Regions from separate parts of the Homo sapiens genome. Here region 2 is linked to region 1. The links come from fine-mapping of genetic effects on gene expression. A gene starts in region 1. The other region holds a variant in brackets. All regions are shown on one strand. Distances are from middle to middle.

The links.
Region 2: its variant is fine-mapped to the expression of CDC5L in whole blood (TOPMed, PIP 0.92).

The regions. Positions count from the first base shown.
Region 1 is chr6:44,379,123-44,395,952 of GRCh38, reverse strand. It overlaps CDC5L (cell division cycle 5 like), which reads right to left and starts at 8,247. Exons shown (of 16, transcript NM_001253.4): 1 at 8,085-8,247; 2 at 5,582-5,685; 3 at 3,125-3,286; 4 at 2,380-2,507. The coding sequence starts at 8,129. LOC124901323 (a long non-coding RNA gene) reads left to right here and starts at 8,034. Exons shown (of 4, transcript XR_007059595.1): 1 at 8,034-8,914; 2 at 9,784-9,903; 3 at 10,424-10,572; 4 at 10,842-11,391. It overlaps SPATS1 (spermatogenesis associated serine rich 1), which reads right to left. Exons shown (of 9, transcript NM_001372081.1): 9 at 15,774-16,830. RefSeq lists an enhancer at 8,166-8,365.
Region 2 is chr6:44,423,891-44,440,720 of GRCh38, reverse strand. CDC5L (cell division cycle 5 like) reads right to left here. Exons shown (of 16, transcript NM_001253.4): 11 at 16,138-16,302; 12 at 14,538-14,618; 13 at 13,997-14,239; 14 at 10,811-11,008. It overlaps MIR4642 (microRNA 4642), which reads right to left and starts at 5,080; the gene lies at 4,999-5,080. The variant G/A (reference allele first, on the strand shown) is at 7,532.

The DNA.
Region 1 (16,830 bases):
AGCACAAATTGTGAAATAGGGTAAAAACTATTTAATTATGAGAGAACAACTATCATTAGATACTTTTTTTTCCCCTCAGAACAATTTCTCTCATCCAATACATTTTTCGTGGCTCTATAGAATGGAATAATACATGCCACTATTGATGCCTTAGAACAATTCCTATGCAAGGCTGTCCAACTAAATCACATGGGAACTTGTAAAATACTCAGATTCCAAGATCACTGCTCTTCCCGTGCCTCCCACACCACCCCAGATGTACTGACTCAGTATATACAGGAGAAGCCCTGATATTTCTATTTTTAAATGCTCCCCCTGTGATAATGATGCAGCCAGCCTAGCCACAGCCTGCCTTTGGGAACCACTATGTTCAAACTTTACATTTTAGAAACTTAACAAATATTCACTGAGTGCTTCACAACAACCCTGCTAAGGTAAAGCAGGTATTAGTATTCCCCATCTCGCAAGAAAGGGAATCAAAGCTCAGAGAGATTTTATGACTTGTCTAAGGTCAAACAGCTAATAGGTGGCACACACGGGTTGAAAATCCAATTCCTGATTCTGTTAACTGATACATCATACTTTACATATTTATAGGGTACATGTGAGAGTTTGTTACATGCATAGAATGTGTAATGATCAAGTCAGTATATCTGGGGTACCCATCACCTTGAGTATTTATTTCAGACCTCTCTTCCAGCTACTTTGAAATATGTAATACACTGTTGCTAACTATAGTCACCCTATTCTGCTATCAAACATTATAACTTATTTCTTTCCATCTACGTTTGTACCCATTAACCAACCTCTCTTAATCCCGCTCTCCCACCCACACACCATACCCAGCCTCTGGCATCTATCACTCTATTCTAACTCCATGAGATCAACGCTTTTAGCTCCCACATATGAGGAAGAATATGCAGTATTTGTCTCTCTGTGCCTGGCTTATTTCACTGAACATAATGACTTCTACTGCCATCCATGTTGCTGCAAATGACATGATTTCATTGCTTTTTATGACCAAATAGTATTCGTGTGTGTGTGTGTGTGTGTGTGTGTGTATACCATTTTTTTTTTTTTTTTTTTTTTTTTTTTTTGAGACAGGGTCCTGCTCTGTTGCCCAGGCTGGAGTGCAGTGCTTGATCTCAGCTCATGGCAAACCCAGCCTCCCGGGCTCAAGTGATTCTCCCACCTCAGCCTCCCCAGTAGCTGGATCTACAGGCATGCGCCACCACACCTGGCTAATTTTTGTATTTTTTTATAGAGGCAGGGTTTCACCATGTTGGCCAGGCTGATCTTGAACTCCTGGGCTCAAGTGATCTGCCCACCTCAGCCTCCCAACGTGCTGGGATTACAGGCGTGAGCCACCATGCCCAGTCCACATTTTCTTTATCCATTCACCCATTAATGGACACTTAGGTTGATTCCATATACTTTCTATTGTGGAATTCCTGATTCAATGCCTCCCAGAATCACTGTTAAGTCTCCATCACCGTCTCACAGGTTGCCTTCTCACACAGAATAAATAACTTGCCTATAGTCAAATAAGTAATTAATAGGAGGACTGAGGTCCAATATTCTGACTTGATGTCTCTCTCCATGGAATAGGAATGAGAAACAGGATCTTCAAGGGCTCACCTCTAGCCTCTGAAAAATCTACTCAGTAGAATTACACTACTCAGTTTTAAAGACAGGGTCTCGTTATGCTGCCCAGGCTGGCCTCCAACTTCTGGGCTCAAGGGGTTATGTTGCCCAGACTGGCCTCCAACTCCTGGGCTAAAGAGATCGACCCACCTCAACTTCCTTAGCAGCTAGCACTACAGGCACATACCACCACACCCCGTAACACTTAATTAACTTAATTAACTGAATTGAAGAAACAGAAGATGAAGGGGCGCTGTTCAGAAAAAGCAACTACTCTATAACAGAAAACACTGGACATATTTGGAAAGATACTTAGAATAAGAACACTGCTGACAGAATTGGGGATCAGGTATGGTGGCTCACACCTATAATCTCAACACTTTTGGAGGCAGAAAAGGGAGGATAGCTTAAGCCCAGGAGTTTGAGACCAGCCTGGGTAACACAGGGAGACCCCATCTCTACAAAAAAATTTAAAAATTAGCCAGGTATGGCGGCATAAACCTGTAGTCCCAACTACTCAGGAGGCTGAGATGGGAGGATTGCTTAAGCCCAGGAGGTCAAAACCGCAGTGAACCATGATTGTGCCACTTCATTCCAGCCTGGGTAACAGAGCAAGACCTTGTCTCAAAAAAAAAAGGGATTCTAAAGTAGAGGAGTTCAGAAAGGAACTAAAAGAGTGAGGCCCAAGGAGTTTACAGTTACCAAAGAAATAAATTCCTCAAAGCATACACTTACCCTCATCCATATCAATTGGATCAGGCCGCGCTGGTTTTGTTTCTGGATTTGGATCTATTTCTCCAGGTTTAAGTTTTCGTGGATCATCTGTTGTTTCCTCTTCATTGTCTCTTTGGGCAGCTTTATCCCTAGAAAAAAGCCCATAGGAGTTAGTCACACTACAGTACCATTTAGAGTTAAAATTACCAGATTTCCAAGTTCTGACGATATTTTTCCCCCCAAAAAAACCAATGGATGGGCTTTAACAACATAAAGCCTTTTTACTATCACTTCATCTGAAAGAAATGATATTAAAATTTGCTGATTTCAGTGACTGGTTTCAATCACTCTAAAATAGAACCCAAACAGATCCTAATCACAAATGCGGTACAGCCATACAAATTTAAAAAAAAAAAAAAAAAAAAAAAAACTATTAGTAAAGAACCAAAATGTTCCAGTAGTTAATTCTTAGCAGTGTGATTATGGGTGACTTTTATTTGCTCTTTTACTATTTTTTCCCCAGATTTTCTATGATGAACATGCATGACTTGTATAATTCTTTTAAATTATTATTTTAGGAAGTATATGACAGAAGGCATAATTTTGATCAACCATCTGAGATATGGAAAATATTATCCAATGGCTTTAGCTTTGGGTTTACTCACATCCATAATTAAAAGTTTAAAGACAGAAAATACTCAAAGTTTATTCAGCCTCTTTCAGAACATATACATATATTCTATGCTCTTTCTGAAGACTCACTTACAGAAGAAATTCATAGTGTTCTAAGCACTGGGCCGCTGTTCTTCCAATGATTGGAGCAATGGTCCTCCACTGAGTTGGCATCAACTTGGCCAAGTGCAAGAGTTTTTCCTCTTCTTCTCTGGACCATTCTGTCTTCTTAATGCTTGGATCCAGCCATTCATACCTATTAAACATAGATCATTTTATATATTAATCAGTTACCTGGCATAAATATCCAATTTGCACAATGGATACACTGACTTGTGCTCTCATCCTTCAATTACAAAAACTGTTCTTTTTGACAACAGAATATTTGCTGTGTGGTTACACTTACCCCAGTCAATATTCCCCATCTCATCACATTCTATTTTATTTTAATTATGCAAGATTAGTAATGGTTAAAAAAGGTTACTTCACTGAATCATGATCATAAGCCTTCTTTCTCATCTATCATGTTTTTATTTATTTACGCTTTTCTAGAAATTTTGAAATATTTGGAAGACAATACAAAATCACGTTTCTTACAGTGTTTCCAGTTTTCATACTATTTTCTCATGCTTTGATTCTCACACCATGGCTTATTTCTTTAAGCATTTGACTTACACTCACTAAATTCACCGTAACCTTTCATTTGATATGTTTTAAAATTTAAGTAAAACTACTATGACATTCCCTCTGTCTTTCCTAATTCCCCACCCAGCCCACCTTTTCCATCCAGTCTACTTAGCTGGATGACAGGCAGGCAAACAGGACTTAAGTCCTACCAAATATGACAGCAGGAACTGGTACCACTAAGACAAACAGAAATCAGAACGACTTCTTCAGCCTAAAAATCATCTTCCTCTTAACAGCCAATTTCTACATTCAAAAAGCCTCACTCTGTCGCCCAGGCTGGAGTGCAGTGGCAGCATCTCAGCTCACTACAACCTCCACCTCCTGGGTTCAACCGATCCTCCCACCTCAGCCTCCCAAGTAGCCACCACGCCTGGCTAATTTTTGTACTTTTAGAAGAGACGGGGTTTTCACCATGTTGGCCAGGCTGGTCTCAAACTCCTGACCTCAGGTGATCCCAGCCTTGGCCTCCCGAAGTGCTAGGCTTACAGATGTGAGCCACCACGCCTGGCCAATTTCTACATTCTGATACTTTCCCCTAACCAGGTGCCTAGGAAATTAGGTCATTCTTATACAATCCAAAGTATTTTCCTAATGCCACATGACTTGGGGATGGTGCTAAATAACTCATGCCAAGAACACCCTAAATAGCTTCACGTGTCCACTACCCTATGATTTAAGAGGTGACACCAGCCGGGCGCGGTGGCTCACGCCTGTAATCCCAGCACTCTGGGAGGCCGAGGTGGATGGATCACGAGGTCAGGAGATCAAGACCATCCTGGCTAACACGGCGAAACTCCGTCTCTACTAAAAATACAAAAAATTAGCCGGGAATGGTGGCAGGAGCCTGTAGTCCCAGCTACTCAGGAGGCTATGGCAGAAGAATGGCGTGAACCCGGGAGGCAAAGCTTGCAGTGAGCTGAGATCACGCCACTGCACTCCAGCCTGGGCGACAGAGCAAGACTCCGTCCCAAAAAATAAAAATAAAAAAGAGGTGACACCACAGGTTCAGAGTTGGCTTATATCTTTTAATATATATAACATATTAAATATGTTTAATATATACAATATATAACATATTAAATATGTTTAATATATAATATATAACATATTAAATATGTTTAATATATAATATATAACATATTAAATGTTTAATATATAATATATAACATATTAAATATGTTTAATATATAATATATAACATATTAAATATGTTTAATATATAATATATAACATATTAAATATGTTTAATATATAATATATAACATATTAAATATGTTTAATATATAATATATAACATATTAAATATGTTTAATATATAATATATAACATTAAGTATGTTTAATATATAATATATAACATATTAACTATAAAATATATAATATTTCAACTGTATTATGAGGAAACTCAACTACTGTAGGCTTACTTAGAAAATTAGCCATTATTTATCATTTATTTCTTTGAGCAAGTAATTTCTAAAACAGCTAACTTATGCACTTTTAGAACACAATTAATTTACAAGCTGGGGCTCATCTGTCCCTGAAAGTAGACTTTGTATGCTTCACAAAGCACTCTCAAATACATTAACCCATTTAGATGACAACTCACATCTCTATCAGTCAGGACCAAGTATTATTATCCCTAATTGGGAGAAAACAAGGGCAGGGGAGAGGGATAGAAAAATGGCTTGCCTAAGACCACACAGGAAGCAAGTGACAGCTAAGTCAAACACCCAACTTCCATCTCCCACTCCATGCCTTGTTATATTACAATGTCTGCTTTCTTTGATAAGGTTCACAGAGTTGACATTTTCCATCATCATAATTAAGCTCCTTTTCTGTTTTCCACTTATTAAACTGATACATACCATCTGGCTTTGCACTGCTTTGCTGATTTTCTATGCAGCAATGAGGCAATCCTAGACCACTGATTTTTCCCATATTTCATTACCGCTGCTTTCAGAATTTCATCCTAAAAAAAATTGCCAAAGAGTACATTCAGTCACAAAACTCCAAGTGGGAAAAGACAAAATTTAAATTAACTCTGATAGGGCTATTGGAGAAAGAGACATATAACATGCACATACACACCACCTAGGTTAAAAGACTAAGGATGAAAACCTCATTAACTATAATAACAGCAACCAAGAATTGAGAAATTAAGAAGAAATCCCTTAGAAAGACAGCTACCCACCCTTACACCACACTCTCCAATAAATTGGGAGTGGGAACAGCCCAATCTGAGAAACCCTACTTTATGACAAAAATTAAGAAAAAGTATTCTTCAACGTGTGGCTGTCCTTCTCTTCAAAAAGGATAACTAAAAAACACAACAACAACAAAAATGTATAACTCATTCATTTATACACTCACTCAAAAAACACTTCCTGAACATCTACCTTGAAACATCTACCTTTCCCTTGGGGAAAGGTCTTATCAAACAGGACATATCCAGGCCTCAAGAAGCAAGTTGGGACTCTGGTGAATATATTCTCCAATCCAAGCCTCCTGTCTCAAGTTTATACATGGCATTTCCCCTCCAGCCCCTTAACCCCAACTATGACCCAAGAATCCACATCTCAGGTCTAACCTAAGAATTACATATTTCTACCCCAACCCCACTAGTCAGCTCTCCTTCCAATTTCCCCCCATCTCTAGATACCATTTCACCAGGGCACCCATTGCCATGTGGAATGCACCAACCTCAAGGAAGCCTGGCAAGCCAAGCCAAAGACAAGAAAGTTAATGGAGCCATAGATGCATGCACTTAGGCGATTTTACTTCTAGGCTTTTTTTCCCACATTGGATTTGAGGTACGTGCCTCTTGAGATACCCCACTCCATCCTCTACATCTCCCATGATCAAAGATACTTTTTAAAAAGACTGCAGAGCTTTGACCACTGCATAGGAATCCTACTGTTACTTGATTTTATATCTGTCTCTCCCTCAGAAGTCATCTCTTCTCCAATTTAAACAGTCTGGTTCCCTCGGTGGAAGCTGAGGCAGTTTTCATTGTCTTTTTTGTAACTTGGTTGCAGTACAACTACACTTAAACACATTTTCAATTAAATAGATACAGCAGATACCTACTCTACTTGATTCATTCTGCAAATACCTGTCGAGCAACCTACTTCATGTTGGTTACTGTCCTAGGTCCTAGGGATACCAAGACCTGGTCCTCTCGCCATGCTGTCTGGTGAGGTGAAAGAGCAACTAGCTCTTACTCAGAGGCTACTATGTGCCCTACTCTGATCTAAATATTCCAAACGTATTAACTCGTGTAATCCTCAAGAGAGGTTAAGTATTATTATCCCAATTTAGAAAAAGTAGAAAACTGAGGCTTTCAGAAGTTAAGAAACTTACCGAGTACCACACAGAGGATGTGATGCTTACAAAAAGACAAAGCAAGTTTTAACAAACGGAAGAAAAAGGTATCATGAGAATATCGGGGGTGCAATTAATTCTTACAGAGATTCCAAGAAGTGTTTCCGAACTAGGTTTGAAGGATGATCAGAAAGATGTCAAGCGCTAGGAAGGCAAAAGATGTAAAAAAAAAAAAAAAAAGAAGCCATAAAATGTAACGAAAAAAAGACACAGAGCATGAAAAGACATGATGTGCTCCAGAAACTGATAAATTCGGTACACTCTGAACACAAAACGCACTAAAATCTAATTTCTATTTCACTCCCACTCTACTGCCCTTTGGCTCACCAATGGCACTATCCACTACGTTTCTGGAAACAGAGACTATCCTAGGCCAGTTTTTCCTTTCTGGCTTCTATCTAGGCAAAGGCAGTGACAGAAAGAGACAGACCTTGGGATCTGTCGAGATGGCAGACAGGTTATGCCCTGATAACAGATAACCAGAGAGATGCGGGCATAAACGGGCTCTCTGAACCTGGCACTCAAACTGCTTCCCCTCTGCAAGGAAGTCAATGGAGACACAAAGTTGTGGCCACGGCAACTTCTTTATTTCTGAGTATGAGACAGAGTCGTGGTGCCTGGACTAAGAGTGGATGGTGCCCCGGGGGACCAACTCTGGCTGAGTTGGAACTCTGAGTTCTTCCCGGGGCCGGGGGGGGCGGGGGGGCGGGGTGGGAGGGGGCGTATTCAAGTCAACAAATGTTCACTCAGGGCCTAACAAGTGAGCTTGGAGCCGAGTAGCCAGGTGGTGACATCACGGTCCCTGTCCTACTGGCGCTCGCACAACACGGGGCCAGACACACGGAAAGGGCCCCAAGGGTCAGCCCCCGGGCTGCCCTCCACGCAGACCCCACAGGGTCTCCTCGTCGCCCCCCCGACCTCCGCGCGCGTGCGCACAAGCTGCTAGAGGGAGCGGCGGGCAGCGGACGGCGGGAAAAGGAGACTTACCTCGGTATTCCTCCATACGCCCCCCTTGATCATAATTCGAGGCATCTTGGCGGCAGGGTGTCTCGGCAAGCAGCCGAGAGGAGCTTCAGAGAAGTAGTAACAGCGATTGGGCCACCGGACTCAAAGCCGCCACTTCCTCCAAGCGCGACCTTCTGCTTTGAAGATCTGCGCAAGCGCAAGGTGGGAGGGGGCGCAGAATAGCAAGTCTCGCGAGATATTGGGTGGCTGAAAGGGAAAAAGTGTCTTGTGGAAGCTCAGCTGCAGGAAGACTAACACAAAACCATCAAACCACTCTGGCCAAAGCGCCTTACGCCCCGCGCATGTCCAAAACAGAATGGAAGAAACTACGGCTCTCGCGAGATAGCGGCGGTAGCGCTTGGCTGGGAACTTAGTGGTGGGATTGATCGTGACGTCACCGAGTGGCAGAGGGTGGGAACGTCACGCGTACGGAATTTCAGCACAGTTGCTCCGAAGAAGGCTTTGTTAATTTATTAATCTAGCCCTTTCAAGTATTTCAGTAATAGGAATTTATTCACAGAATACTCAGGAAAATCCAGTAGTTTATTTAAGGCTCAGTTTCCTAACCTGTAAAATAGAGATCATAGTAATGCCAACCTCACAGGATTGTCGTAAGGGCTAAATGAGATCATAGACCCAGCACAGTATCTGATCCATAATAACTGCTGCAAAACAATAGCAGCTATTACTGCAAGGAGGGCAACGCCAACTTCACCCCGTCCCCAGGTGATCCAGGCTTCTTCCAGAAACCTGCAGAAACGTCACGTCAGAGTTTTTAATTCATCGCCCAGTCTGGATTAATAATGCCATTGGTACGCACTGGTATTAGACAAAGTCGAGTTGGGTTGAAATATTGTGAAATCTTGGCTTTCTCATAAGTTTGGGTAATAACCTTACTGAATCTCAGTATCCTCATCTGAAAAGTGGAGCTAACAATACCCGCCTCGTAAATGAGGAGGCAGATTAACTGAAACATAACTAAAACCCAGTGAGGTAGGGATTGGCAAACTCTCTGCTACCCCACCCCAATTACTCATGCAGTCTCCTTCATCCTTCCAGAACATCTCTGGCTCCATCCCTGGAAAATATCAAAATATTTAGTGGGTTGGGAAATGCCCTATTTATAGTACTTAGTATTTATATAGTGCCTATCTCTTTATATTTCTTCATTTCTCCGTTTGCCTCTTCTGGAAGAGCTACAGAATTTTCTTTTTCCTTTTAGCTTTTATTTACACACATTCTGTGCAATTATGGTCAGCAAGAGGGCATTTTCCATGGCCACCCTGGTAGTGTTTGCCACTCAAAGGTTTATGCTGGCGGGCAGCCCGCCCTTGAGCTGTTTACCCACTGTGTGGTGTATAAGAAACCATTGGACCTGTGGCCAGTTAAACTCAAACAAAATGTTTTCATTTGGACCTCTCCTGTAATGGGGCGGTTTTTTTTTAATTTGTTATATTTAATTTTTGTGGGTACATAGTACACACATATTTATGGGGTACATGAGATATTTTGATACTGGCATACAACACATAATAATCACATCAGGGTAAATGGGGTATCCATCATCTCAAGTGTTTATCTTTTGTTTTACAAACAATCCAATTATAATCTTTTAGTTAATTTAAATGTACAATTAAATTATTTTTTACTATAGTCACCCTGTTGTGCTATCAAATACTAGGTCTTCGAGATTTTAACACTGGAGCATAGAGGAGGTCAGTCTCTACTGACTGCTGAACATCCAACACGTGACACCCAGGAGTTGTCTACCACCATGTTTTGGACTAAGGGAAAAAAGCAGGTAAAGAGAGAGATGTAAGTCCTGACCATGTCAGAGTACCTGGATCCAGCATGTTCCTGAGTCCCAGCTGCATTCCTGTCCTTGCATTCTGATTATTAGTTTCCTATTTGTGTTAGCCACTTGGAATTGGGTTTCTATTATTTGTAAGGAAGAGTCCTAACAATTCCAGAGATGGACCAATACTCTGTCAGAGGCCTTTCAGATCTCACATTCCAAGAGTTGATGAAGGCTTCTCCCTCCCACTCAGGGCCACCTCTTTACCATATGTTACTTTTGTGAGAACTAGAAAAAGGTGCCCCTTCCTCAAGACACTTTATGCCACATGCTGGAAAATTGTCACAAAATACTGGTGTTCTGAGAACAGGGCACTCTATTACAAGAAAATTGGATCTACCATCTCCACTATGTGAATTCCACCCCTAGAGACATGCATTGTACAACTTACTCATCCAGGTAAAACAGCCCTGTCAACTGTCCCTCATTTCACCTTTGAACATGCAGATTGTATATTCCCTTTCAGAATTCAGAAAAATGCAACATCATGGAAGTTCCAGGATGTCTGAAACCAGAGCACTGTAGCCACAAACATCAGAACACAAACACACTGTTCTCCAGGATGGCCTGCTTGGCCAGCCTCCCCCACCATACTACTGCAGCCTCACCAGCCAGGTATGGGAACCCTTACAAAGAGGCCACAGGGACTGCCAACAATCTCTTGAGGGACAGCCATAAGAAGCATCTATCGTTAGGCAACCAGACTATATGGTCAGTCACTGTGAATCTTTGGTAAAGTGAGTGGCCACTGCTAAATAGTCTCACTCACCCAAGGCATTTTTCCCCAAACATGTTCCTTAGAACACCAGTTACATAAAATACTCCATTTAAAAAAAAACAAAAAATAAAAAAAAACATGGTTTTTATGTCCTCCCCTCTTGCAGAGTCACTGAAATTAAAGCCTGTAAGAAGCTGTCAGATGAAAAAATCTGTTTCTCCCTGTTGAGAGTTGAATTGTATTCCCCCCAAATAGATATGTTCAAGTCCTAACCCCTGCTACCTGTAAATGTGACCTTATTTGGAAATAGAGTCTTTGCAGATGTAATCAAGTTAAAATGAGATCATACTGGAGTAGGTTGTCCCTAAATCCAATGAGTAGTGTCCTTATAAGTGGAGAAGAAAAAAGATACAGACACACAGGGGGAATATCATGGGAAGAAAGAGGCAGAGATTGGAGTGATGCAGCTCCAAGCCAAGGAATGCCAAGGATTCTGGCAGCCACCAGAAGCCAGGAGAAGGCATGGAACACATTCTCCCTCTGAGCCCCAAGAAGGAGCCAGCCCTGCTGACACTTTGATTTTGGACTCCCAGCCTCCAGAACTGTAAGAGAATACATTTCTCTTGTTTTAAGCCACTTAGTTTATTGTGCTTTCTTGTGGCAGCCCTAGGAAGCTAATACACTCCTTTGTTAATACAGCAGATCCTTGAATAACATCATTTTGTGCAAGATCGTTTCATGATAACATTGATGAGTCCAGGCATGGTGGCTCATGCCCGTAATTCCAACACTCGGGGAGGCCAAGGCAGGAGGATTGCTTGAGCCCAGGAGTTTGAGACCAGCCTGAGCAACATAGTGAGACCCCATCCCTACAAAAATATTAAAAATTAGCTGGGCATGGTGGTGCACACCTGTGATCCCAGCTACCCATGAGGCTGAGATGGGAGGATCACTTGAGCCTGGGTGGTCGAGGCTGCAGTGAGCCATGATCACACCACTGCACTCCACCCTGGGCGAGACCTCATCTCAAAAAAAAAAAAAAATCCGCTTGAGGCCAGGGCCACTGTCTGTGTGGGTTTCTTCCAGATACCCTGGTTTCCTCCCACATCCCAAAGCTGTGCAGGTGAGGTTCATTTGCAAGCCTGCAGTCTGAGTGAGTGTCAGGGTGTGTGAGTGTGCCCTGCAATGGGATGGTGTCCTGTGTGCTGTCCAGAACTGATTCCTGCCTTGTGCCAGGATAGGCTCCGGCCACCTGTAACCCTGAACTGGAATAAGCGGGAGTACATTTCTTGTTTTTATTAATCTTTCTTTTCTTTTCTTTTCTTTGAGACAGAGTCTCACTCTGTGCAGGCTGGAGTGCAGTGCCACAGTCTCGGGTCACTGCAGCCTTGACCCCCACCCCACTGGCTCAAGCAATCTTCCAACTTCAGCCTCCCGAGTAGCTGGGACTACAGGCGTGCACCCCCATGCCTGGCTAAGTTTTGTATTTTTTTGTAGAAATGGGGTTTCACCATGTTGCCCAGGCTGGTCTCAAACTCCTGAGCTCAAGTGATCTGCCCCCCTTGACCTCCCAAGGTGCTGAAATTACAGGTATGAGCCACCGTGCCCAGCCTAATCTTTCTTAAATGTATGCATAGCTTACACTTATTTCAATGTTTAATATTAGAAGTGTTTTGGTCTTTGTTTAGAAGTTCGTTGATGTTTTGTGACCAGAAATATGCCATAGAAACTTAACTCTTGTTTATATCAATTAGCCTATGGTAAAATTGATTACATGATACATCCTTTTGCTTAAAGTTGCAGTTTCCAAAAACCTAACAATGATAAAAATGAGGACTTACTATATAGCATTTCCAAACTAATTTGACCCTAAAAACCTTTTGTGTTATATATCCATTGACACTCAGGAAACACAATTTGGGAAACTCTGGCTCAGGAAAAAGAGGTTAGAAGTCCATCCAACTTACAAAGGGGAACCAGAGATGTTAGCAGGAGGATTTTTAGGTTGCATTGTCCCCATTTCCCTACCCCTCACCCCTCTCTGGGTAGCTGGTTCTGAATGGATTGACATTTACTTAGCAGAGAAAGTAATCAAAATTCTAGTTTCCCTTTCATCCAGTTTTTTCACCACCAAGAAACTATGCAGGAAAGGGCTAAAATTAGGGGCAAAAGCCTATGGCAACAGCAAGGCATAGTTTAGAGGCAGGATTAATGACTCTCACAATCTTCATCATCTCCCCAAATAAACATGCATAATAATTTAAATAAAAATACTGTCCTGCTTTGCAAATGCAGTCATGTGTCAATGACAGGGATACATTCTGAGAAACGCATCGTTAGGTGATTTCACTGTTGTGAGAACATCACAAAATGTACTCACACCAAATCTAGATGCAGTAGTCTATTACACACCTAGGCCATATGGTATATATAACCCTTTGCTCCTAGGCTACAAACCTGTACAGCATGTTACTGTACTGAATACCATAGGCAATTGTAACACAATGGCATTTGTGTATCTAAATACAGAAAAGGTACAGTAAAAACATTTATCAGTAAAATGTCTTCTAATAATTGTTAAAAGACATTTGCAAAACAATAAAAAATAAAGAAAAGATACAGTAAAAATATGGAATTATAATCTTATGGGACCACCATCATATATGCAGTTTAGAGTTGATCAAAATGTCGTTATGCATTGCATGATGATATCATTTCAAGACAGGTCCTCTAGCCCAACCCATCCACCAGATTGCCATCCATAAGCCCCTCCTTCCCATTTAGAAATTCCTCAACCAGCATTGGGAAAAGCTAATGTCCTGGTGTCAAGTTGCTACAAAATGATTTCCAAGCATCCTAAATCCTGATAATTCATGTTGTATTGCTGAAAACATCACCTAAATTGGCTTGAGTTTCATCCATTGACAATTCCTTGTGGTGGATCCAGTTGTGGTTTTATAGTTCTTTCTCAGGGTTCACCTTTGTGGGTGTTCTCTAGGGAGTCCCCTGTGCCCTGAAGTGGAGAAATGATCCCAAGGAGAATTTGCTTTTGCTCAGGCCCTGAGGTTTGAGGGTCTTTTTGAGCTCGTTGCTCAGTTTGGGATGGATATTCCAATTGTGTAATTTATATCTAGCCCCTGCATCTACATGTCACAGGCTTAGAATATACATTTCTCACAGGGGACTTTATTTTTCACATGCGTATATCCAGACCCCAGATTTATATGCCCGACTACACCCTAGATAGTTCCACCAGTGTCACAAGTTCCTCAATGTCAAATTGCCCAACATTGACCTCCTGCCAAAAAATCTGTACTTCCCCAGCATGCCTCATTTCAGCAAATAGCACAAGGCTGCTGCATATGGTTGTGTAAGAAGTTCACTGCACAACAAGGACATGGGGATTTAAATCCAGCTTGCACACAGCTCACTAAGCTGTGCATCCACAGGGCTGTGTCCACCAAGAGGGCATCATTCTCTAGTTGTACAAAGATGCTACATGAGGTCCAGATGGCCCTGGCAACTACACCATCATCCATCCAGTTGCCATTTCTCCTTCTCGTATATTTTTACCCCACCCATTCCCAAGTCATCCCAGAGTCTCACCACCTTGACCTCCTACTTAGTCCTCAAATCTATCTCCTTTGTGCCACCTGCACTATAAGTTGCCAGTTCTGACAAATAAAAATGCAGAGCTCGGCCGGGCGCAGTGGCTCACACCTGTAATCCCAGCACTTTGGGAGGCTGAGGCGGGCGGATCACAAGGTCAGGAGATCAAGACCATCCTGGCTAACACGGTGAAACCCCGTCTCTACTAAAAAAACAAAAAAATTAGCCGGGTGTGGTGGCGGGTGCCTGTAGTCCCAGCTACTTGGGAGGCTGAGGCAGGAGAATGGCGTGAACCCGGGAGGCAGAGCTTGCAGGGAGCCGAGATGGCGCCACTGCACTCCAGCCTGGGCGACAGAGCGACACTCCATCTCAAAAAAAAAAAAAAAAATGCAGAGCTCCCATTTAAATGAATTTTAAATAAAGAACAAACAATATTTAGTATAACTATGCCCCTAAATCCATTCTGTCTAACAGAATCCCAACTTTTACTCCAGCCCAAACTGTGCTCAGACAAAAGAACACATTTCTAGCCAGATAAGCATACCCTTGCTCACAGCTTCACCACTGGAAGCTGGATCCGTCTGCTGCCCCCACACCACATTTGGTGGAGGCAGACACATTTCCTCAGAAAATAAGACATTGGGATATTTTGGCTGCTTGTTTGATATAAGGCTAGGACCCTTCATGCACACCACAAAATGTTTACTTTTCATGTAAGTGTTATAGCCTGGATTTAGGAGCCTCAGTGTTGGCTCCCAGGTGAGTCAGTAGTGGCCTCCCCATTCCTGAGGGTGGCATCAGGCCACAGTACCTCTTGGGGCTCCCCAGCATGGGAAGGACACCAGTCATCTCAAATGGGCTCCCACATCCTCTCCCAGAGTGTGCCGGGAACTTGGCTCGTAGACCCCGTAAAAAGGTGCGCCATCCTGCATCAGGCATGTGGCTCAGTTCTGGGTAGAGGTAATTATATACCCAAGTACTCTCTCCTGATTTCCCAGCCAGGAAAGAAAAGCCTCTTTAGGACAGAGACATGATCTTGAAGGACTCCAACTCTAAAATACTTCACCAAGTCAAGTCCTGTAAACAATGTGTTTACCTGCCTAGATTTTGAGACCAAAATGCCTAAGAACAAAACAAAACTAACCAAACTGAGTGCCTCGTATTAGAAATGTGGACAATTAGTGGAATCCTACAGTATATTCCTAAATTCCTTGTGGAATTTTAGAAGTTTAATATCCTACTATCTTAACATTTTGGTAACTTGGAGTTCAGAGATCACTAATTCGAACGTTGGTGCCACTAGCTGAATAATACAATGTTTCTTCATGTCCACAGAGGTCATTTTTCATTTATCCCAGGATCCAAAATTAGAATACCTCTGTGCAATATAAAATTGCACACTAAGAAATTTACTTGTAAAGTTTCACATATAGTTTATTTCTATTGAACTTCAGTTATTGAAAGTAAGAATTGAACACACACACACCTCTGCACCCACATGTTTTTATTTACCAAAGACCCTACAGTGAGGTGAAGGGGATCTTTACATCTAACAGGTTCAACCTCTTTCTAGCTGGAAAGAAGCAAAAGCTGGAACAGCTATGATATGCACATATTTTTCCCATGTGGCCTTTCTCTATGCCTTTGTCTCCCCACACACGTAGACATACTCATGCTGTCCAAAGTTGGCAGTGGAACTCTACCTGACAGCTATTGAGGTGCCGTGGAATAAGGCCTGGGCATCGAGATGTACCCACAGAGAACACCAGATCCAGCGAAAACTGCCCTGATTTTCAGGGGATGAAATGTAGCTCTGCAACTCCAGAAGTTCAATCATCTAACAGTTGTGTAGGGTTTTTTTGTTTTTTTGTGTTTTTTTTTTTTACTCATGGTTTTTGCGGCCTGGATTAAAAGAAAAAGGAATCAAATCATATCTACTTAGAGCAGCACCTAGGAATTATATAGACCTCTTTGAAACCTAGAGACTACTCCAAACCTTCTAAAACTGTATTTTGGTTGTTTTTCTTTCTTTCTTTCTTTCTTTTTTTTTTTTTTTTTTTTTTTTTTTTGAGACAGAGTCTCACTCTGTTGCCCAGGCTGGAGTGCAGTGGCACAATCTTGGGTCACTGCAAGCTCCGCCTCCCAGGTTGACACCATTCTCCTGCCTCAGCCTCCCGAGTATAGTACAGTCCTGGGACTATAGGTGCCCACCACCATGCCTGGCTAATTTTTTTGTGTTTTTAATAGAGACAGGGTTTCTCCATGTTAGCCAGGATGGTCTCGATCTCCTGACCTCGTGATCCGCCTGCCTCGGCCTCCCAAAGTGCTGGGATTACAGGCGTGAGCCACCACGCCCAGCCGGTTGTTTTCCTTAATATATTTATGGTGTAGGACTCCCTCCTTCCAAAACACCAGGGAACCTTCTGAGAGCAGTTTCCTGTGCCACCTAGATAATCTCACCAGGAAATCTCTGCAGAATCTTTTTTTGTTCTATATTGTGTCCTCCATTACTAACCCACCTGGTGGTTGCAGTTGACTTTTTTTTT
Region 2 (16,830 bases), 45 kb before region 1:
AAAAAAAAAAAAGGATTTTAAATATTCTCTCCACAAAGAAGTGGTATGTATTTGAGGGGATTAATATGTTAATTAGCTGATTTAATCACTTCACATATGTGTATGGAAAAAATCACATCTTACTCCATAAACATATGCAATTATTATTTGTCAATTAAAATAGAACTTTTAAAAATATGGCCAGGTGCAGTGGCTCACAACTGTAATCCCAGCACTTTGGAAGGCCACGGTGGGCAGATCACCTGAGGTCAGGAGTTCGAGACCAGCCTGGCCAACATGACAAAACCCCCATCTCTACTAAAAATACAAAATTTAGCCAGGCATGGTGGTGCATACCTGTAGTCCCAGCTACTCGGGAGGCTGAGACAGGAGAATCACTTACACCCAGGAGGCGGAGGTTGCAATGAGCCAAGATCAGGCGACTGCACTCCAGCCTGAGCAACAGAGCAAGATTCCATCTCAAAAAAAAAAAAAAAAAGTCTAAGTCAAGCCCATGGGAGGTGGAGGCAGGCGAGTAACACTGCATGTTATGTGCCTTACAAACATGAGATGGATCTAAAATTAATTTAAATGAAGAAGCTCCTTTAAAACCATTCATTTCTTCAGATTTTTATAAAAGTTAAGCTTTTATTCCTCTGCAATTTACTTGAACAATAAATTCATGAAAACTGTTAATTTCCTTTATAAATGAACCTCTGATAAATCAAACCAAGTTCCATGGCAATGATTATATGTCTCCTAAGGGAGTTAGGATATACTGGTTGAAGGCAGGCAGTACAGTACAGCGGGGTAAGAGTGAGTCACTCTTACAACCCAGCATTGCTGCCCAGCTGTTTTGAGCTGATGCAAGTTATTTAACCTATGTGTCTCCATTTCTCCATCAGTAAAATGGCAGTCATTGCTACAAGTTGTTATGAAGCTTAAATAAGATCATAGACATAAAAAGCCTCAGCTGTCCAGTGCCTGGCACAGAATAAGCAGTCAACAAATGTCAGGTCTGATTACCATTATTATTTTCCAGATACTAAGAGTTCAAACATTTTGCTCTTTTCCCTAACAACTAAGGGAGTAAAAGGATGAGGCTTTAAAAGCTTCATTAAAATTCCAACTTCAATATAAGTCTATGTGGACCCTTTCCTGGAAACACAGCAAGGAAAAACAGCTGGTCCTTCTTTTAAGTGAGGAGTTTGCCCCTTGTGGACCACAAGACCAAACAACACACACTGGACCTCTGTCCTACAGTGTAAAAATAGCGTTAGAACATGGACTCGCGGTGCTTCCCAACTCTATGGGAAGATTTTCTAACCCTGAAGTTCAAATGAGGTGAAGGAAGTATCTAAGTAATTCCACTCCCAGTATTTCCCAAGAGAAATGAAAACATGTCCACACGAAAACCTGTACACGAATGTTCATAGCAACATTATTCATAATAGGTAAAAGTAGAAGCAACCCAAATATCCATCAACTGATAAATGGATAAATAAAATGTGGTATTATCCACACAATGGAATGGTACTCAGCCATAAAAACAAATACTAATATATACTACTACATGGATGAACTTTGAAAACATTATGTTAAGTAAAAGAAGCCCATCACAAAAGACCACATATTACATGATTCCACTTATGTGAAATATCCAAAATAGGCAAATCTATTGATACAAAAAGTAGATTAATGGTTTCCTAGGGGTGAGCAGGTTGGGGGGAATGAGGAGTAACTGCTGATACAGAATCTCTTTCTGAGGTGATGTAAATGTTCCAATAATGGTTGCACAACTATGTCAATTTACTAAAAGCCACTGAACTATACACTTTAAATTGTCTTAACTTTATGGTATGTAATTTATATCTCAGTAAGGATATTATAAAAATAAGGTATACAAGGAGTAGAAACATTACCTCCACAGGAGAAAAAAAAATTCCTCATCTTCAATTCTTCTGGATACAAAATGCAAAAATACTTTTCCCCAGAAATCAAAAGCAGTACTTTCTAAGTTCTAGAAAGGCAGTAGTGGGATGGAGTTAGAGTTTAAAAAAAAAAAAAAAAAAAAAAGACAAAACTTCCACCACATAAATTTTACAACACCATCAAGGAAAGAAGACAATAATTTGTACTCACTCTCTTCCACTTCAAATATTTCTGGAGTATGTCTTTTTACGCCAGTGGTTTTCAACCACAGCTAAACTTCAGAATTGCCAGTGGAGTTTTTAAAATCTACCAGCACCAGTGCCCTAACTCCAGAGACTCTGATTTAAATGGTCTCAGATCTTTGTGTCCTTAAAAACTCCCAAATGATTCTAACAGGCAATTAGGATGTCAAACTCTGTTTCAGCCAGAGTCATTACACAAGCTAGGTATCAGTTGTTTTCTCAACTATATCTACCAAAAAGTCCTCATTTCCAATAAGATATGAACAACTAAATCCATCAAGTTACATTCAAGTTCCTTCTTCTATAATTTAACATGTTCAGCCAGGCAACAGTGGTTCACACCTGTAATCCTAGCACTTTGGGAGGCCAAGGCAGGTGGATCGCTTGAGCCCAGGAGTTCGAGACCAACCTGGACAATAGAGTGAAACACTGTCTCTCAAAAAATACAAAAATTAGCCAGACATAGTGGCACATGCCTGTGGTTCCAGCTACTTGGGAGACTGAGGCGGGAATCACCCAAGCCTGAGAGGTTGGAGGCAGCAGTGAGCCATGATCGCGCCACTGCACTCCAGCCTGGTCAACAGAGAAAGACCCTGTCTCCAAAAAAGTAAAACAATTCAGCATGTTCTAAGAATACCCATTATTACATACTCCAATCACATTTGGATTCAAACACACATTCCAAAACCTTAACAGCAAAGAATTTCAAATTAATACATATAATGCTTTTTAAAAATTAATCATACGAATTAACATTTTCATTGATAACTCAGCTATACACTATGCTCCATGGATAGTCCATTTCCAGTTTGGTTTTACAGCATAATACCTATACTCAGAAACTGCTTAATTAGTCATCAAGGTACGTTTAGTATTATCAGTACCCTGTATCTTGGAATTACCTCACCTCATCCAATGGAGTCATTTCTTATACTCAAACCATCAGAGATTTTAAAACTTCAAAGTTGTTAGCTTTCCTTTAATGCCAACAATTTTATTTCATTTAGCTCAAGCTTTGCAAGTCTTCTGGCTCAAATATTGCGCTAAGGTTCCAAGCAAATATGGACATAAATTGTACAAAAATTAACTTAAGCACAGAAAAAAATTAATTTAGCCAAATAACTATATAGTCATTAAACATATAAAGAAGAAATGGACTACAGCTTTTAATATTCAAGTTGAACTTAGTTATCTTACGCCTGTCATTTGATTATTAAAACACAAAGGAGGGTATCTGCATGCTTTGTAAAATGCTCAACCTATGACTGCTCAATATGCTTTAAGAGGAAAAATCCTAACCTACAGTTTCTGGTCTTTTTCAAGCCAATAAACCTCAAGCATGAAATGTACATGCATACAGGGACAGGACTAGCTTAAATCAGCCCAGCTCCTCCCAACACCCATCCACACACAGAAACAACACTGAGGTACAAGAGAGTATAAAACTTTATTTCCTAAAATTCAAAGAAAAAGGGAAAATCAGACTCAGATTTAACCAGTCAGATTTCTAAATTAATTTTTTAAAACAAGCACTAGCAACTGCCCTGATGGACACCTTACTTTAGAAGCCACCACACTGTGCTTTAAATATGTACTGACAAAAAATTTCTAATAGTCTTAAATAAAATGAAGTTCACTATCACTGATAGGAATTTAAAGTAGACCGACACTTGATACAATTAAAGCTGACTTGATCAAATATGAAAGGGTAAACTTCAATTCAAAGCAGGAAATTAAGAATATATCCACATACAAATCGGTAGGAAGGCCAAGCTGACAAATTTCACGCACCGTAATTCTATTTCATAATACGGTATCTAAAATTTGCTTCAAAATAATAGTGGAAGGGGGGATAACAGGGGAAACAAGAGTGGCTATGATTGATGACTGTCATAGCTGGGTGAGAATACATGAGGATTTATTATACCAGTATACTCTGGGGTACATTTGAAAATTCTTATAAGATTTTTTAAAAGTCAAATTCAATATTGTATCTACTCTAAAGGCTACTTTCTCAAGACCATACACCACAAATCATGAAACATCAATGTAGTGAAATATAATGAGACATTAAAATTTACAAATATGTCAACTATTTCAACACACCAAAATGTATACATGAAATGTTAGATTAAAATCCACGATGTAAAATCTATTTACGCTAACCAAAATCTGAGTTTTAAGCTTCACTCAGTACAACAATCTCTCTCCTAAAATCAGCCCATGTCTAAAACTTCAGACATTCCTCAAAATTTACAGAATATAAAAACTTAGCCACCCGATTGTTTAAAGTGAGGTTAGTTCCTAATACCTCATAGTATCAAACCAAGTATAATCCAATTTAGGTAACTCTAAGGGTGATATAGACTTGAAGACACATGGGAGGAGAATTCCCATTTACTAACACCTGCTATTTGCTAATCATACAGTATCTCATTTAATCTTATATTATCTCAAACTCATGCTTCCATCAAATAAAAACAATTACTCGGCTGGGCACGGTGGCTCACACCTGTAATCCCAGCACTTTGGGAGGCCAAGGTGGGTGGATCACTTGAGGTCAGGAGTTCAAGACCAGCCTGACCCATGGTGAAACCCGTCTCTACTAAAATACAAAAATTAGCCGAGCGTGGTGGCAGGCACCTGTAATCTCAGCTACTTGGGAGGCTGAGGCAAGAGAATTGCTTGAACCCTGGAGGCAGAGGTTGCAGCGAGCCAAGATCGTGCCATTGCACTCAGCCTGGGCAACAGGAACAAAATTCCATCTCAAAAAAAAAAAACAAAAACTATTACTCACCCAATTTTACAGATAAGGAAATGTGAGACCCAGAGAGGTTAAGTAGGGCACAACTGCTGGCATCATCACTGAGTGGCTTTGTGGCTTGCCCTAGGCCACAGCCACCAGGGGACGATGCCATGCAGTTGTGCCCTATTTGAAAGTCCAATACACTGGTCACACCACTGCTAATAAACTGACTGTCCCCCTCCTTGGCTCAGCCCCCTGAAATGCAAACATGCCTGAAAAAATTTAAGCTGTGGAAATGAATGGCTTAAATTTCACCAGACAGCTCCCTGAAAAATAAATTATTCTAGACACATGTAAACAAGAAATAAGACCTTAATTAGCAATTCTGCCCATCATTCTTACCCTGATTTAGACTCTCACCTACATGTACCCACTTATAAGAATTTTGACACCTGAGAAAAGCTTTTACTTTCCTCAGTTTGTATTTTAAAATTCTAAATTCTTTTATTAACAAGCTATAAAACTATAAGAAAACAAATATCTCTCAAAAAAATTATACAGAAAAAAAGGTTCCACTTACCACCTTTTTAGAAGTAGGGTGGAATATAACTAGTGTTTAATCATATTTACAACTATTAAATGAAAAATGTAGAATATGATCCCAGTTTAGTTTTAAACACCTTCATCCAAACATTTAAAAAAAAAAAAAAGATATATGGGAGTATGTGGGGGCAGGGGGGGCGGGGTGCATATATACACCACAATGTTTAAGGTGATTATGTCTGGATAGTAGGTTCCTTTTCTTATGTTTTCTACTTCTTTTAAAACTTCTACAAAGCACAGGTATTATTTATAGAAAGACGCCTAGAAATGTTATTTTTTTAAATGCATAGAAGAGAAACTGTCTAAAAAAGACTGGCCAGAGACCAATGGAAAACTGATGGTCCCCAGGAGATGAATCAGTGGAACCATAAGTGTTTCCTCGGGTCATTACAAAAGGGAGCTGTATGGGACTTATGAAAGTGTAACTGTTACTTTCAAGCTAAGTTTGTTAAGGTTACTAAGCTTAAGTAATTCCAAAATAAACACATTATCCTTGGGTCTCCAATACTGTCTTCAGTAAAAGTCCGTTACAGTGAGGTTCAGAAACATTAAGAGCACCCCTCACTGAAACTCTTGCTTGGGGGCCCAGAATATAACCTTATACCACTGGAAAAACAGGTTTAAGGATACCCAAAATAAACAGGCAGTCAATGGGAGCTCCACTTCCCAGTCCATCAATCAGCAATATGATCCCATATAATAGTCAAGATGTGGTTCAATCACCAAAACATTTGCAAACAACAGGAGTCTATGAGTGATTCTCCTTTAATCTCTATACCAATTACCAGCATTTTTATCAGTGAACCTTCTCTACTCTGATGAGACGCAGGTCCAAGAAAGTAATTATTGTTTGCATCTATGAGTTAGCAACCATCAGATTGCATCCCTGAAAAGCATGCTAACCAGGAAGGCAAAACCTTACTAAAAACCTTTATAAGGACAGTAATACATGAACAAAGCAATACAAGAGCACTGTACATCTGCATACATTAGGAAGTGAAATACGTAAACTGCATAAAACAAATTCAATTCATGTTGAGGCATAACAGAAGCAACCTGGTTGTATCAGGATGTCTGTTCCAGCTCATAAAGTTCTTACCAGAGACAACTACGAAATCTGTCAGTGCCTATAAGGGTCATAGCAAAGAACAGAATTTGGGAAAGAGAGAGTATTCCAAAGTACTGTGAATTCCTCTCCTGTACCACAAGTCACTTCCCCCACCTCTACACAAGGCAACATAAGCATAAACCTGCTGATATCTGACAACATATAGCACTCTACCCAGAACTGTCTACTAACTAAATCCTTGCCCTAAGTTTTCCCTCTTTAAAGTATTAAGGAAATTTTTTCCTGTGTAAAAATATCTGACTTTATAATGAAAATCACTGAGAAAATGAGATCTACTGTGCAGCCAATTTTGCAGAAATATAACCTTCAGACAAGTCAGGGGTCCTCATAAGAGCTACAAGTACACTGAGAAGGATTTTAAGTGTGTTATCTGTGTTCTTTAAGTTACTTTACTTCTAAGAAGTCTATGTTATATAATATTTCTTGACTACAGTTGACTGTGCCAGTAAATTACAGGGAGAAGTAGTATTACTTCTGGACCTATTTTCTATCTCTAAGGAAAGCCTTTCCATTTTTACAGCTAACGTGACAAAATCCACTTTTCAGCCAAACTTCCTCAACACAGCAGTTTAGATACTATTTCAAATACTATTAAATTTAACGGCATGCCTAAATTCAGACTTCTCATTTCACTTTTGCACCCACTGGAAATTATTTCACTCAAAATAATTATGTCTTCAGATGATTTCCTATTTCCACTTAAAGTAGAAACAAATTAGAACACTTAAAATTCTATTTGCACTTCCCAAATACAGTAATGACTCATTTATCTGGCATCATCAGAAAACGAGGTTCTCCACACATTAAGCATTTTCCAGGTAACTGAAGCCCACAAACACAGAGAACTTGTCTGCCTTGTTCCTTGCTGTTATCCCCAGGACCTAGAACAGTATCCAGTAC[G/A]TGGTAGATAGGCAGTAATAATTACTGAATGTGTGAATAAATAAAAGTACTAAAGCTCTTTTATTTTTAACCATTTGTGAAAATGTTTCCTACACTGAATTATAGCCATCCCGCCCTTTTAAAAAAACATGACACTGAAAAGAAATAAAGTTTTTCTTATTAATTTGGGATACCACTATAAATAGCAATCACTTTACTCCCCTGCAATGTATCTTAGTGTCTTTAAAGCTATTAAAATACACTGGGCTTTTTGCCACCATGTAAAAATGGACACAGCATGGTATGCTCTCATAACTTTTCCTTTCCTTATATTAACTGTCATTGCTGTGTTTGCTCTTGCTGTCTTATTTTACACACAAAAGTCTGGCAAGGTTCTAAACTCAATTCTGCCTCCAAAGCAGAATAAAATACATGGACTTGGTTACAATTCAGAAGTCTTTTCCACTTATTTCTGACCTGTAACTGCATTCTGATTCTATTTATTTAACAAACTCCTTGCACACACACATCCTCTACCACATTCTACATAAAATCTGAGATGGTTCTATTAGTTTTAAATGAGTATCTTAAGGATTTTCACTTAAGTGCTAAGTTTCAAATATTAATCATGAGTAATGAATGGCTCAAAGACTACCTCCAATATAAACCTCAGGGCATTTTTTTTTTTTAATCCATTCAGGAGACACCAGCCACGACAAAGCTGGACTTCATCTTGCTTGATAGGCAGTGATAGGGCCATAATTTAGATTCACGGTTCCAAAGTTCATGGCAGCAAAAATCAAACACACTGGCAGCCATGGCATACAGTGCTTACAGAGAAGGGCTTATCTCCTGAACCTAAGAGTGGAAAGGATAATTTAAGTATAGCATTTAGTTTATACAATATAACTGGAGTTCCTTCCCCACAACAAACTTTGAATAATGTTTATAATTTAGCAATCAACTGAAATGAAAGAATTACCACAATTGAAATAAAATATTTATGTATTTCAAACCAATAGAACTGTGTCTTCAAAAACTAAAACAAGCTAAAAGAAACCTAGTTCTGAATTAGTGATGGATACAAATAAAATGGGGGTTTGTTTATTCAAGTCTTTGAGCTGCTTTTCTTTTTTTAAAAGATTTCATGAACTTTCATTTGAAATAAGCACAGTTTACCAAATTAAAGGACTTGATTAAGTATTCTTTAAAAGTAACTAGCTGGGTAAACAATAAAGTAAGTTATCCAAGAGTCAAGAAAAGAAAAATGACTTCAGACTGCTTTATGAATATTCTCCAAAATCACCAATCCTTCAACAAAAATAGTTCAACGGAAGATTTCAGTTCCTGGTACTGAACTGAACAAAGAGAACCACATGTTTTTAATGGTTGCTCATAAACGACCCAAATAAATCTCCAAAAGAACAGGAGTGGCTCTTTCTGTATTTTTCCCTTTAAAATTCATAAGACCAATTCAACACAGAAATAAAAATTACTGTACTTTATGGCACCACTCACTGTGTGACACATTTATTTGCTGTCATGAAAGTTAGTACCTCAACAAAGTAAATGAGATTTAGGGAGAAAAAAATTTTCTACCATTTAAAAAAGCACAAAATGTTCTTGCCATTTGCGGCAAAAAGAGTTTACCCACCTCAAATGAGAAGATTTTCATACTAAGTAAGAAACCTAAGTATTTATATATAAATAATACAAAGAAGCTTTCCAAATAGCTTTTCAATCAGTGATGATGCTGATATTAGATCACAATTACACTGCTAACTACCATTTATAAGAAATGAAGCCTACACAACAAAAAAATGTAACTTACAATTTAACCACTGATGTTCTATTTTCCCTGGCTTTAACACTGAACCACAACACAGAGCAACAGCACACCCTGCTGGAAGTTGGTAATACAAATAATTAGCAGCACTGAACTAAGATTTTACCCAAGATGAGAATTACTTCAGAACCAGTCATTTCTCACTGAGAAAAAAAGAGGTTCACAGGCATTAACCATCAGCTACCTATATATATGTGATCTTAATGGTTAAATTAAAACTCAGAATAACTCAAATTAAAAGATACTGCTTTTTCCTGCTCATTTCCTCAGCCCCATACAGCCCCAACCACCCCAAGTGATTTTACTACTTCTGGCTTTAACCCTAAATAAAAATATTTTCAAATGCACTTTTTGTAAAGAGAAACTGGTAATCACATAAAAGAGGAAACCAAGACGATTTTCTGTATATGACTGCCTGAAGTACCCCTTCTCTCCCATCCCACCTTGGCCTTAGAAATGCCCCTAAAGATTACCATTAAAAATGCACAAGGCATAGCCGGGCATGGTGGCTCACGCCTGTAATCCCAGCACTTTGGGAGGCTGAGATGGGTGGATCACGAGGTCAAGAGATCAAGACCATCCTGGCCAACATGGTGAAACTCTGTCTCTACTAAAAATACAAAAATTAACTGGGCGTGGTGGGGCGTGCCTGTAGTCCCAGCTACTAGGGAGGCTGAGGCAGGAGAATCGCTTGAAACCAGGAGGTAGAGGTTGGAGTGAGCCAAGATTGCACCACTGCACTGCAGCCTGGCAACAGACTGAGACTAGGTCTCAAAAAAAAAAAAAAAGAATGCACAAGGCAGCCTGGTGGTCTGTGAACCACAATTTACATGCCATTGGCAAAATGCCTACACAGATTCTGGAATTCAAAATATGCAAACTATATTAAGAAACCACATGTCCTGAAACTGCATCTAGTATGTTTTCAACATTTTCACAGACATGAAAAATCATGGAAGCCACTAACTAGATAATCCAGCTCTGCCCTCCCTAACTCAAACTCACAGTAATCCAAGGATGAACAGAATTGTATTTAAGTTTTGTAAATGTACTCTCTTTGTTATAAAAAGAAAACTCCTCGTTACTGCTGAGATTCCTCTTCAGAGAAAACAGGCTATGCTAGCAATGACCTGCCTGTTCTGAGTGACTAGTATTGGCTTCTTGGCTCCTTGCTCCCACATCTAAAGGTTCTGATTGACCTCTGGTCAACTTGCAGGGCACTCTTTAGTCATGAAGGCCAACAATTCTTTAAAAAAAAAACAAAAACAAAACAAACAAAAAAAAACAATGAACAAGGCCAAGAAGATCCAACACTTAAGTGTAGTTTTCTCCAACAACTAAAAAGGCAATAAGCACCTCAGGTGTGTTTTTCTGACATTGTCTCCAGTGGCATTATTTAGTTCATTATCTCAATCAAAGTACATTTAAAATTAAAATTTTAAAAGGATACCAACCTCGAGCCTCTTTTCAAGTGATTCAATTCTGTCCTTTTTACTAGCCAGATTGGCCCGTGTGTAGCGGCTCTGCCCAGGAAGATATAAAACTTGACTGTAGCATTCTTCCCACACCTGGTTATAAGCTTCACTTGAGAGCTCTCCATGGCTCATTCCTTGTTTAACCACTTCCATCTCCTGCACCAAAACATCCTGGGCCTGTTTACAATAATAATTTCAATAAGTTTAAGTACTACAAACACTTGCCATATCCAGAGAGCTTTAGAAGACTAATTTTTTCCCTCATGCCTTGAGTCAAATCCAAGATGTGGTTGGTTGTTTTTTGGAAGGGTGGATAACAATACCTAGGAAAAATAGCTTAAGAAGCCTTTGAGTCAATGCAGACTGCTTTTTAAAAATCAAGCATCCATGTTTCCTCAAAAGTATAAACATCCTTTGCTTTCACTCACTATAACAGCAGCTATCATTTCTCAGGTACCTATTGTGTGTGTGAGAAACTAGGTTTAAAAGTTTTACCTACATTATATCCAAAGATCATAATCACCTTACAAATTAGCCAATATTAACCTCATTTAAAAGCTAATGAAATTTGGCCAGGCACGGTGGCTCCCTCCTATGATCCCAGCACTTCGGGAGGCTGAGGTGGGCGGATAACGAGGCCAGGAGTTCAAGACTAGCCTGGTTAACACAGCAAAACCTCGTGTCTACTAAAAATGTAAAAATTAGTAGGACGTAGTGGCACATGCCTGTAATCCTAGCTACTCAGGAGGCTGAGGCACAAGAATCCCTTGAACCCAGGAGGTGGAGGCTGCAGTGAGCTGGGATCGTGCCACTGCACCCCAGCCTGTGCAACAGAGTGAGACTCAGTCTCAAAAAAAAAAAAAAAAAAAAAAAAGCTAATGAAACTAAGGCTCATAGAGATTCAACCACTTGTTAAGACCACATCGTTAGTAGGCAGATGAGGCAGAATACAAATGGCACCACTGGGTGTGCCCCTTCCACTCTCCCACTCCACCATGTGTGCAGGACCTCACGTGATGGTAAAGGGGAGCTAGGCATCTTTTTGTCACATGGCATTTTTCTCATCCTGAAGGAATGCCCTGACATTGCCAGATAATGAGACTGGGGCACGAATTAGATGATAGATCATAAACCAGTTTAGTTCACTACTAAAGAAAATAGTGTAAAATGACAGAATGAGAGGGAAAGCTGGACAGGCCTGGGTTCAGATCACAGCTTTACCATTGAAGCAGCTCTTTGAGCTTGCTTAATTTATCTGAGCCCATTTCTCAGGGCTTTTTCAGCCTGGAAAGCTGAAAAACAGCTTTCCAAGCAATGATGATGCTGACCTTAGATCAGATGTGTTTGTTATTAGGATTAAGTGAACAATATACTATAGAGCCTAGCCCAATGCCAGACACACAGAATTCCATAAGCATATGAATTTTTTCCCAGCCCTTTGCTTCATGGCTTATGAAAAACTGGGAACCACCTTCTGTGCCTTACAGAAGGCTTTCAATCTTTCCAGTAATAATGAAAATAAACACATCAAAATCTACAAAATCAAGAGAAATGATTGATAAACAAAAAATTTTAACAAAAGAAACGGAAAATCATCTCTATAGAAGAAAAAATGGACACTTAATACCTTAAGGGAAATAATGGAAACAAATCAATGTTAACATATCTTAAAGTATATTAAAGAAAAAGAAAATCTGACAGTTTATTAAAAGAGAAATGCTATTTCACTCTGAAACTGCACAGAGTAAAAATTTACAAGTTCAGATCTTATAATCATTACGAGAGAATATGGCTAAGTTATCTTTAAACTATCCATAAATAATCTGCTAACTAAATAGCTGCTTCAAATTCTTTTTGGAACAAAGAGAGATATACACAGATAAAATATGAGAGAATATTTAAGCTACTTTGTTTCAAACAATTACAAACCAATACTTAGAATTATTATTTTTCAAAAATTGTGTTAGGGTTTACCCTCTACAGAATCTCCAAAAGCAACAATGTGATCCTTGTTTTAGGTTTCCATACATACAATTTAGGAAAATTTATTTCCTAAATTCCTCTTCCCCTCATATTTTCACTTTCAAAAGAGGAAACTGTGCAAGTATCAATTTCGTAGCCTGATTCTCAATCCCAGTTCAATGATTAAATGTGCTCGACAGAGTAGGCAACTCAACAGATGTTAGTTTCCCTACTGCACTTACTAAAAAATGAGTGACTCAGTTATTCTGAAATCAGGGACAAGTTATTGAAATATAAATCGAAACCCTCCTTCCTTTCTCTATTTTCTAAAAATCCTATAATAAATAATGTATTACTTATGCAATAAAGAAAACACAAAGTAAGAAATTGTGAAAAGCGAAGAAAGAGGAAGAATGCAGGAGAGAAGACAGGAGAGTTTGTAAGAATCTTGTTTGTTTTATCCTAAGTATACAGCAGCTCATTCCAAATCCATAGGTCTATCACTGCTCCTCAGGGCTGAAGGCTAAAGAAAAAAAGACTTTTAAGCTAATGACCACTCTGCTTCCAACGATGAGACCCACTGTATCTTCTTATACAATTATGGAGATTTCTATTTACAATCACAGTTGTTTGCTCTGTCAAAACAGAAGGAATAAAATGCATGTAGAAGAAAAGACCAGATACAGACTTCATATAAGAAATCATTTCTTCATGTCCTTATCCAAAAGAGTAGGGGGAAATCATGTGAGGGGAATATATTCAGTAAAAAAAATACTTCCTTCCTTTCAATAGCTAAAAGGTTTAATCTATAAACATTTTTATATTAGTCTCTCTCACCTCTTCATATTATTCTAAATAAGTGATGTTTAAGTACTAAAGGCATCTAATTTTTATTCAGAGATAGCAGAGCTGAATACAGAAAACGGCAACTGTAACAACTGTCAACGAAGCCATTAATACCCATGAACCAAAAACACCCTGGCGGTGTTTATTTGCTAAAGGTCTATCACACTGAACACGGGGGATGGAGGTATTTAAAGCATGTCCTTTTCATAACACTTAATCTAAACATGCATCTCCTAATCATACATTTCAGTTGTTTATGAATACCAACAGGGAAAAATAAGTTCATTATTTGTCCATGATACACAGCACCTAACAACTACCTAAATCTCAAGAAGAAATATTCCAGCTCAATCATACCTTTTTCAGCTCTTCTTTGGAGAACTTTTCATAAGGATTATGTTCCAGATAGGTAATGTGCTCTGAATTATTGGTACCAAACCCTACAGTTTTGCCTTTTTTATTTCCAGATGGTTCATAAGGGTGATGTAGAAGGTCATAATGAAGCATTGTGATCATTTCTTTTTTGATTAGTTCTTCACTTTTCTGTAAATCTGTTAAAGGCGGTTCTACATTTAAGGGTCTTAGAATAGTTTCATTTACCTAAAATTTTAAAACAAATACAATTACCAAACATATCACTATAATATATTAATGTTATTACCTGTTACAGCATGAATTAAACAGCGGTTTTACATTTTCAAAAGCAATTTCCATTTTTTTCCTTCTAAATTCTTTCTGGTACTACTGAAACATTTTAAAGATTGGATTTGAGAACTACTTTGCTATATTCCAGAAAGTAGATGAAATTTTGTTTTATAGTCTTTATGAATGATGTAAAACGCAGCAATCATATAAAAAGAAACTTAAAACTTCCTAAACCAGAAATTCTAACACTTACTTCTGATGGTCTTGGCAGATCTTTCTGGACAGCTTTATGCATTCGTTTCATTTCCTTTACACGCTCTGCATCTCGTATGGCCTAAAAAATGATTTTTATATCCTTTATTGCAGCTATAGCGTATTTGATATCTCTCAGTAAAGCTAAAAACACTTTGGTATGTAAGATCATGTGTGTTCAATAGCTAAAGTTTAGAAATCGGTTTAAGTTTGTAGAAAGGCAATGCTAAGGCAACAGAAATGAATCAGTCTATTCACTCTCATTATAATAGAAACTAAGAGCTTCCAATGTCTACTAGAGCATTCTCCAAACTTGCATGGATCCATATCACGTAACAAACTTTTCTCATCTAAATGGAAAACCTAAACTCCAAAGAGACTCCCACGACAAAACTCTTTCTTCCCTTTCACTCCAAAATTACTGACTTTTAACTCAAAAAGCCAGCCAAAAAATGTATTGTTTCCTGATTCTTATGAATAATGTGGGATAACACATTAAAATTTCATGCCATTTCTGAAGGAGTAAATGTAACTCAAAGTAGCTGAGAACTAAACACAAAAAGTATCATCCTCTGTTCCCCACTGAAAAGCACATTTACATGGGTCCCCTCTAAAATATTGTTTCCACTGATGTCATTCTCACTCCAATCCCCTGAGATTCAAGGTCCCTAAAATCATCCAGCAATGGACTGCAGCTACTGAAAGGGGTCATAAAATATCAGTTCTAGTTTAGGATTCACCACTTACCCACCATGAGACCTGAGAAAGTTGAGACCATGAGACCTCAATTCATCTGAGCTTGTTGAGTATTCCTTACTAGAAATATCTGGGCCCAGAGTATCTTGGATTTCTGATTTTTTCAGATTCTGGAACATCTGCATTATACTAACTCTAATCCAAAAAGCTTCAATGAGCATTTCTTTTGAGCTTCATGTCGGCACTCAAAAAGTTTTGAATTTTGGAGCATTTCAGGTGTTGGATTTTTGGATTAGCAATGTTCAACCTGTAATACCGATCCTATTTATATCACTGTGCTGTTACGTGCAAATGAGAAAGTAATTACGTATAAGATATATTAGTACAAAGTGTTACTAATATTATTTTGACACACTCTATCTAAATTTCCAACTCCAGTTTAGATAGAGGTCTTACTATGTTCCCCGGACTGGATTCAAACTCCTGGGCCCAAAGAATCCTCCCACCTCAGCCTCTCGAGCAGCTGAGACTACAGGCTCGTACATCGCACCACCCAGGAACCAAGATGTATTTGTTTTTAAGACTAACCAATAACATCTTTTCTTTGCTAGATTGAAGCAATGTCTAAAAGACTACCTATGTGTATTTTAGAGAAGCATAATGAATTTGACAGAATGTATTTAAATTTCCATATATATATTTTTAAGAATGCTCATCAAAATATTGTGAGTATGTTAATTATGTGAGGATACATTATTAATGACATAAGTTATTTACTTTAGAAGTTTTTTCAATATTAAAAAGGACTAGGTAGAGATCTTGGGACATTTAATGGCTATTCTTCATTCTTCCAGCCTACTGACACATTCAGCCAAACTCACGCTTCTTTCAGTACAGTTACCCACCTGCTTTCGAGCATCCACATCAGCAGCATCTTCAATGTAAGTATCATCTATTTCACGTTCTTCCAGCTCCTTCTCGGCATTTTCTGGTAGAACAATTTCAAAATCATTCTTAGGGGCAGGAAGGCCCAACAACCCTAAACGGAGATGTTCTCGGGATTCTCTTTCCTGTAGAAAAGAAGTGGTCCTTCTCAATTCATGCATATTAAACATTCCACCAGTATTTTATGAGTCTCTTAAAAATTGATAGCACAACAGGGTGACTCTAGTCAAAATAACTGTACATTTTAAAATAACTAAGAATAATTGGATGGTTTCAAACACAAAGGTTAAATGCTTGAGGGGATGAATACCCCATTTTCCACGATATGATTATTACACATGCATGCCTGTATCAAGATATCTCATGTACCCCATAAATATACACACCTACTATGTATCCACAAAAATTAAAAATTACAGAAAGAGAAAAAAAGTCTCAAAAAAAATCAGCCTAATATTAATTCTAGAAAAATAATCCTGACTTCAGAGCTAAGACAAGTCTTATGTTTATTTTCTATCCCCCCTTCTTCCCAACATTAAGACCAACCAAAAACTTTCACTTGTGATCACTGAAGATACTCTGGGATATTCCAACAGGAGGTCTGAGGCCAGGGCAGAAAAAAAGACCACTTTGAGGGAACACATTTCTGACAC